2 separate regions of the Homo sapiens genome follow, and region 2 is linked to region 1. Evidence: fine-mapped QTL for protein levels in blood plasma. Region 1 holds a variant in brackets. A gene starts in the other region. All regions are shown on their forward strands.

Region 1 (4,403 bases):
CCCCTAAGCACATTCAGGTTGTGTGACCTGGGCCTGTTCCCTGCCTCTCCTGGCCATTGCCTCTCAGCTTCCACCTGCTCCTGCCTCTTACAGGCTCACCCAGCTTGGACCCAGGGCTCCGGCTGGACCTTCAGCTCCTGGGTCTTGTTGATCTTCACACCAGGCTCTGCATCCTGGCCTTGTCTCTCCTCATTTTGGCCTTCAACCTGGTCAACCCAAGATTGAGCCAGGGCTTCTGGGCCCAAGGGGCATAAGAGAATAAAGCATTCTTGTTTAGCATGGACAGCCTGGGAGATGGGCAACCCAAGAAAACCCACTGGCAAGGAAGACTGCCCAGGAACGAAGAATCACACAGTGTATAGTGGATACACCATGGGCTTTGCGGTCAAGCCAAATTGGTCAGATCCTAGATCTGCTGCTAATTGTGTCATCTTGGCCAGAATATTGAAAGCCTCTGAGCTTCTTTTCCTTATCTGTAACGTGAGGACAACATAATCTCCCACATGGATTTATTGGGAGGATTAAATGAGAGCTTGTATATAAAAGTCCTTGCATACACCTGATTTGTGGTAGGTACGTAATGTTAGGCCCCCTCTCACCTCATCTATCCTTTCTTCTCCCTTTTATCTTATGTATATGTAGGCATAAAGTGAAAAGCAATGAAATGCTTTGCATATAATCACATGTAAGGTTAAGTAGTGCTAGGATGAATAATACTGCTGCTTTGCTGTGAGTGTCTGTTATAGCTTGGGGTACAGACTCATTTTCCTTAGGAAAAAGTCCCTCTTCCAGGCAGCTTGCCTCTGGGATAGAGGAGGAACCTGGGATCCATTAGGACTTCAGGCCATAAAATTTAAACATATTAGAATGCATAGGACGTTAGAGGGTTAGTCAGCAGCCAGCCATCATTTTTGCAGAGGAGACCCAGAACTTGACACCTAGAGAAGTTAAGTTGCCTGGTTTAATGTCACAGATCAGATCTACTGAACTCCCACCTGCTGCTTCTCTGAAATGAAAGATACCTCGAGAAGGTTGTTGTGTTTCTGTGTCAAAAGAATATAAGGGATGCAACAAAACATGGTCATACCTATGACCAGTATGAAAAAATATGCATGATAAAAAACACTAAACCAAAAAGAGGACAGGTATTTTAAAAGGCTTTTAAAAAAAACTGAATCTGTTAAAGTGATGCTGTAGTTAAATGCCACTATATCTTAAGAGAAAATTCTGCGTGGGCGTCAATACCACTGACAGATGGTGAGTTTACACAAGAGTGTCTATTGAATGCAACAGACATTACGTATCCCAAACAGAAACAACCAGAAATTCTGTTGCAGTGTGTGTTGAAGGTATGGCTAAGAATCCATAGCACGACTTACGTAAGAAAGGTAAATAATTACTAGTGTTTTCTTGCTGTAGCTGGTAAGTTAGTATATTTGTTCATGGAGTTGATTAGGATTGATGGGCTAAGAGGTCATTTGGATATATCAGTATGACAGACATAATATCAGGAAATGAACTATTTAGGGGTGCCAGGAGAGTCTTGATGGTTTGAGCAGACAGTAGACCAGTCAATATCAGACAGCGTGGTTACAGGCTGTGACAGGTGACCTGTTAGTGTTAATTTCAGACTTATTAGAAAATGTAGCAAGGCAACATTTGTAAGGACAGAGAACTTCAGCCCATTCATTACATTATTCACCAGCAATTGCTTAGCACTAAAAGGTTAGAATTGGAAAATGTCAGGGACATTGCAATTAGCACTGAGTACGGAATATGATTCTGTGCCTTGAACTGCTGAAAGTACAATGATTTTCATGACCCTCTTGAAACAGAACACCATATTCAGCTGTATTTCATGGAGTCTGGGGAGATCCATCGAGGGGGTTTAAAATTGGAAAGATATTTTGTTTTGTTTTGTTTTGTTGAGACAGAGTCTTGCTCTGTCACCTATGCTGGAGTGCAGTGGTGCTATCTCGGCTCACTGCAACCTCTGCCTCCCGGGTTCAAGCGATTCTCCTGCCTCAGCCTCCCAAGTAGCTGGGATCACAAGTGTGTGCCACCACGCCCGGCTCATTTTTGTATTCTGAGTAGAGACAAAATTTCACCATGTTGGCCAGGCTGATCTCAAACTCCTGACCTCAAGTGATCTGCCCACCTC[G/A]GCCTCCCAAAGTGCTGGGATTACAGACATGAACCACCGCGCCTGGCCAGAAAGAGTTTTTTTGAATTGTTGAAATAAATTGACTTGCTCATTGATCCAAGGAAAAATTTCCATGCCTTCTCACCAAAGACTAGGCCATCAGAAACAAAATCTGGAATATTTGTTTTGAAGGGTGTCTGTGCGTGAGATACCTAGACACTGTAGTTAAGAAATATAAGATGCAATGCACTCATTTCTAAAGAAATTACATCTGAGAAACTCATTTCATGGAAAATTATCTGACCCACTTAACTACACTGGAATGAGTTTCCAGAAATGAAAGTGATAGACGGAACTATATTCTTAAAATTGTCCATTTGTAGACCAGACTCCAAAAAATTGTATTTCAAACGTAATGAAAATGAAATAACATTGTTGAGTTTGCTTTCCTCAATTAATCTTGATAGGATAAAGGAAGCACTATAAATTGATATGCTTGAACTGTAGGGAAAAATAGTACTAAAAATTTACCATAACTATACTGAAGTCCCAGAAATCTAAAGGTGTAACTTTTCTAGGAATCCATGTCCAGAAAACAAAACAGAAGAGACATTGACATTTTGATCTAGAAACAGCAGTGCCTGGTTTCCAGAGTTATATTAAAGAAGAAATGAATTATTTAAAAAGTGTATTTATTAAGCATTCCTTATTCTCTACTTGCATTATATACATAGAAAATCTAGTCAATATTACATATATTTACATATAACCTGCTAACATTCAAGTTTAATAAAAAATAAATCTGGCTGGGTGTGGTGGCCCATGACTATAATCCCAGCACTTTCGGCGGTTAAGGCAGGAGGATTGCTTGAGCCCAAGAGTTTGAGACTAGCCTGGACAACATGACAAGGCCCCATCTCTACAAAATATTTAAAAAATGAGTTGACCCTGGTGGTACATGCCTGTGGTCCCAGCTACTTGGGAGGCTGAGGTGGGAGGATTGCTTGAGCCTAGGAGTTGGAGGCTGCAGTGAGCTATGATTGTGCCACTGCATTCCAGCCTGGGTGACAGAGTGAGATTCTGTCTGAAAATAATAATGATAATAATAATAATAATAAAATAAGAATAAAGTGTATATGCCAACTTTTCTTAAATTTTGTCCACTCATTTCTGTTACCTGCCTGCTGTATAGGCATGTGACTTTCAATCCCTGGCCTGAGAGTCCCTGAACTTGAGGGAGGATTTGTTTCTGCACATCATGTGGCTGCTGCTGGCGGCTGCGTATCTGAGCTCAGGAGCGGAACACCACTTGGCCTGGGCAGAAACCCAGAGTATTGCCACAGAGAGGGCAAGCATCCAGGGACTGATCACATGAAGCTCCATCCACAATACTGTGTGGCACAGCCATGCAAGAGATACAGTTAACTACTAACAGTTTTCAGTTTCCAGATGCCTGGCCTTGACACCAGAAGTGATCATCAGCCCCTTTGTGCTGAGCCAGACTGGAATGGAAGAGTATTTTCTTGAATGAGAAGTGGAGGTCCCTAGAGGGAGATACTTGACTTCCTGGGACAAGTAGGGGCCTATGTGATTGATTAAAACAATAAAAGATAGAGTCATTCATATTTTTGTTTTTAATTGACCTCACGTGGATAGAATTAGATTAATTAGAACTCGATTTGTAACACACTCTCATCATGGCCTTCTTTGAGCGTGTGAGTGACTGCATTTGTTTAATTATTCAAAGAGATGAATGCATTCAAAGTCCAAATTTTATACTGAAGAATACTGTGCACCACGGTGAACTCTACTCATATGAGATCTAAAAGAAGCCCACAGAATGGACAACCAGTATTTATTGAGCATCTATTTGACTCAAAGTCCTATGCCGGGCCCTTTGCAAACATTTTCTATTTAATTCTCCCCAAATTGTCCCTGGGTAACTGCTTCTTATCCTCCCTGCCTCACTCCCTCCTGCTACTGTAAACTGGCTGGTCAGAAATAGAATTGCTGTGAGCGACAAGAACATTGCAGTGCAATATTCTCAGGTGGTTGGGTGGTTTGCTATTGGGTGACTTTCAATTTTCACAGCCGAACTTTAAAGTCTCATTAAAACAGTTTTTTGTTGCTGTTTGCTGAGTTTACGTCAGCAGCAATTCAGCAAATAAGCAGACACAGCAGATTGCCTGTTTTGGCAGGTCTAATAAGAGACCTACAAAAAATGTGATTGCGAAGGAAAAACGTGATTTCAGAACTAAAGCCT
Region 2 (4,403 bases), not on the chromosome of region 1:
AAAGTGTGGTCCCCATGGGTCTCTGAGACCCTCTTGAAGGGTTGAAAGGTCAAAACTATTTTCATAATTATACTAAGACATTACCTGACTTTTCCAGAGGCTACAGGATGTATGCTAATGCCACTGCCCTGAATGCTAATGGAATGTATGCTTATGTATTCTTGAGCTTTAGAAAAAAATCCTCAGTCTTAATTTCTAATGCATAAATTGCAATAGCAATATCAATAGGTAAAACCTACACAGGCAAAAGTTCTTTGAGGTCCTTGGAAATTATTAAGAGTATACAAGGGTCCTGAGACCAAAAATTTGAGAACTGGTAAGATTTAATGCATCAACTACCATTACACAGTGTCCTTGTTTCTCATCAATGCATTTTATATAGCAATTATTTTATCTAATCCCATGAAACTCACTTTATTGGATGCTTTTGCCATATCCTTATTTTCTAGCATCGTAGCTATTAGGTCATCTAATTATTAATCTGTTTGTGTCTTTGGGTTTAAATGTGTCTTTTGAGGCCACACAATGTTGGACTTCATTTTTTAATGGAGCCAACAATCAGCAATTGTTAATGCATTTGCTTTGTGTTCTATTACTCTGCAGTTTATCTTACTCATTGTTATTTTTGCTTTCTTTAAATTTATGTTTTCTTAATGGACTTTAAAATTCTTTATTTATTTTTTATGTCAGACAATAAACATCCCTAGTCTGCCCATCTTTCTATCATTTCAACATCATCATATTTCCAAATAACTTTTCATTGTTTCCTATAATTTTACTATTAATAGTATAGGATTAAGAAAATAAACCTTATCTGGGTTCTGGCTGGCACTGCCTTCCCTCTAGGGATGAAAATGGAGTGTAGTCTGTAATATATCCTGGTATCATAAATATATTTATAAAATTATACAAATGTAGCTTGCAGTTCTAAAGGCATGTAATCTAATTTTTACTTGAATTTTATCTTTTTTCTCTTTTTGTCCTTCATAGACCTCGAGCTCTGTCTAGCCCTCAACTGTTCTCAAATCTCCATTGTTTTCTACAAGTGACCCTCACAGCTGTGGGCCTTTGTTGACAAATTGTTTCATCTCCTCTGGGTCTTAAATTATTTTCTCTTACTCTAAAGTGAAAATTTGATGAATGTTTCCAGATACTGCACTTGGAATCATAACTTAATTTCCCTTAACCTTGTGTAAATTCTGTCCCCCCACTACTCCCAACTCCTATCCCTCCTCCAAAGCACTGATACTTATTATCACATTTAAATTTTTTCCCCGCTCTACTGATAACTTACAGAATGCAGGACTGCATTGTGATGGGGTAATTTCCATGAGTTGATTGGTTGGTTTTGAGTTGAAAAACTTAACAATGATACATCTTAAATTCTTTCTTTGAGGATTATTCCTTAATGAATTCGTGCTACGGACATACTGAGGTGGTTATTTTTATATTTCCCTGATAATAAATTCTAAATTGCTAAGGGTTTCTTACCACCCTCGTCCTTTTACTGTTACTAGATCTATTTTTAGCTGGTGTGGGCGTCCCCAGCTAGTTTCACTTGCCTAATGCTAGTTCTTTTTTCTTCTACATCAGGTCGCCTCTTCCTAGCATCTTCTCCATGTTTCTTGTTGCTCTACAGCATTTACAAGACCCAGTTTAATAGTTTAGTGCCTTTTTTGTCACTCATTATTTCTTCTTTGTTCTCTGTTAAAATAATAAGTGTATGATCCATTGCACTTGCCTTAGAGTCTTGAACCAGTCTTGGATTTCCCGCCATCTGGGTTCTGGCTGGCTTGCAATTTCTCCTTTGATGTTGTAATACTTTTTCATTGAACTTGAGTGTGGGGCTTATAGAGCTTCTTTGCTTTCATTATTTTTTCCCAAAATGTGCACATTTTTTTTCTTAAGCTTATTTTGCTGTTTTGTGCTGTTATTTTTAATTGCTTCCCACTGGGTGGGGGGGTAGGGGGACTGAGAGTGAGATTTGGCTTGAGTTTGGCTCTCTTTGCTATTACTCACATTTCCCCCCAGAAGCCCTACATGCACTCCTCTCTCTCTGTCTTTGACAAATTACTTTTGAAAGATCATTGATCCCTGGCGTAAATGGTGTTAAGAGTAAGATGGACTCGGGTAGGGATGCTCAGGAATCCAGTCCTGTACAGTCATGAGCTTGGCCATCTGGAAGTCTCCTCTTGCTCAATGAAATGGAGTAAACATTGTCCATTATGAAATCCACCACACAGGCTGCCAGGGACGAATGGGATCCCACCCAAAGCCAATCGCTGCTCTGACAGGGAAATTGGCTAGCACTGCCTGAGACTACTCCAGCCTCCCCCGTCCCTGATGTCACAATTCAGAGGCTGCTGCCTGCTTAGGAGGTTGTAGAAAGCTCTGTAGGTTCTCTCTGTGTGTCCTACAGGAGTCTTCAGGCCAGCTCCCTGTCGGATGGCTTTTATGAAAAAATATCTCCTCCCCATTCTGGGGCTCTTCATGGCCTACTACTACTATTCTGCAAACGAGGAATTCAGACCAGGTAAGTACCCATGCGTCTCATTTTGGAGGAATAGGTTTAAAAAACACAGGGGTGCTTGAGTGTTCCTGAGGACCAAGATGTGTTCTTGATCCTCAAAGTTGGTGAAAATGAGGGAACCCTGAGTTAAGATGGTATTTTTGTGTCCTCCAGCTACAGGCTGTGGACAGGGGGGACTGTGTAGGAAGGGTAATCGTGTAGCCAAAATCTAGCCAAATAGGCCATGCTTTATTTGGCACCCTTAATGGAAAGCAGTTTCAAATCTTCTACAAAAATGAGAGTAATACCCAAATTCACAACTCAGCAGCTAATTGGGCTCTATGAAGAGACTGATAAGTGGGAGGCAAAAAAAAAAAAAAAAAAAACTGGAGATGATGACTACATAGAAGTGAGGGAAAATCCCTGGAATTTCTATGAACACATGTGTTTTGATTCCTTGTTAAATGTACTTTCAATTGAGCAAAATTGAAAGAGTCCAGAAATGTCTGGAACTCCAGCATTTTAGCTGAACCATGACTTTTCTGGCTTCATCCTATGATCTCTTTCCATGGAGGTTTTTAGAAATGACAGTAGGGAGGCTGTCAGCCCAAACCTCCCACTTCAGAGCATGTTTATGAAAGACCTGGCCTGTTCCCACAGTGATTTACGGAGTTTGTGACAAACTGATCTGGGCTCATAACCTTTAAGTTACAAATTGCGATAAGCATGCCTATATCCAGAGAGGGAGAAGGAATTTTGCTGCCAACTTGGGTATGGTCCTCACTTCCTTTTGGGGTTCCCCAGAGATGCTCCAAGGAAAGAAAGTGATTGTCACAGGGGCCAGCAAAGGGATCGGAAGAGAGATGGCTTATCATCTGGCGAAGATGGGAGCCCATGTGGTGGTGACAGCGAGGTCAAAAGAAACTCTACAGAAGGTGAGGGTTCTATGCTCGCAGATATGTGTACCGTCACATGCTCAGATGTGTTCTTATATATGCTCACATATACACAGAAGCTAGCATATCGCAGATCTATATACAGAGGCACATGCACACACACAGACACTTAATTTTGCACTCTCATATATAGATTCAAACACCAAAAAACCCACAGGAATATAAAAGTATGCATTTAAGCATTCATTCATGTGTGTGTGTGTAATATATTCTGCAACAGAGTCCTTGAGTTATATATGCTCACAGACATGCCTAGTCACACACATTTACACATGGAACTACAGATACATACGGATGTTTTCAAAAACTGAAATCCCAGTACCTGCTTATGAATACATATCCTCATACCCATGCAGACTCCCAGACACATGCCCTCTCATGGACTCACAAACCCAAGGATGTACAAACATTCACAAACCTAGAGCTACCCACATAGTAACCAGCATCTACACTCATAATGCCCTCAGAAATGCCTATTCACAGAAGCCATGAGCATAAATCATGAACTTAAACCCCAGCACTGGGATGATTTATCCATTTGAACCCCACCAAGTTCCAGAAAATATTTCAGACAGAGGACGATGATCATGAGGGTTATATTAGGCAACACACACACAAACATACTTACCATTTCTTACCTAAACAGGGCTGTGAGCAATCTCTCATTTAAGCCCCCCGTTACTTCAGAGACTACCCCCCAAAAATCTGCAGCTAAGACTGATGCCATTTCTGCTGTATCACTGCAGGTGGTATCCCACTGCCTGGAGCTTGGAGCAGCCTCAGCACACTACATTGCTGGCACCATGGAAGACATGACCTTCGCAGAGCAATTTGTTGCCCAAGCAGGAAAGCTCATGGGTGAGGCTGTTTCTCTTACCTCCTCCTCTGAACTTTGCCCTTGGGGTCACCAAGAGCTTTTGGGAGGAGAATGGGAAAGG

Which allele goes with the higher level. Positions count from the first base shown, and alleles are read on the strand shown. Strength reflects both the effect of a copy and how common the allele is.
For the plasma level of the protein whose gene starts at base 2,349 in region 2, allele G in region 1 goes with a lower level than allele A (weak association).

The links. A credible set is the group of variants that fine-mapping cannot tell apart. PIP is the posterior inclusion probability: the model's chance that the variant is causal. Protein levels are from antibody-based Olink assays in UK Biobank. Linkage for the fine-mapping came from a reference panel and not from the study's own genotypes, which makes the PIPs less certain.
Region 2: HSD11B1 starts here. The variant in region 1 is the best candidate, but not a certain one, in a credible set for the plasma level of the HSD11B1 protein (UK Biobank, PIP 0.50).

Annotation. Positions count from the first base shown.
Region 1 is chr8:9,313,687-9,318,089 of GRCh38, forward strand. No RefSeq gene overlaps it. Among named protein-coding and RNA genes, the nearest start is that of PPP1R3B-DT, 160 kb to the left of the region's middle. The variant G/A (reference allele first, on the strand shown) is at 2,162.
Region 2 is chr1:209,702,498-209,706,900 of GRCh38, forward strand. It overlaps HSD11B1 (hydroxysteroid 11-beta dehydrogenase 1), which reads left to right and starts at 2,349. Exons shown (of 6, transcript NM_005525.4): 1 at 2,349-2,533; 2 at 3,314-3,444; 3 at 4,212-4,323. The coding sequence starts at 2,446. All of the region lies in intron 1 of HSD11B1-AS1 (HSD11B1 antisense RNA 1), which reads right to left.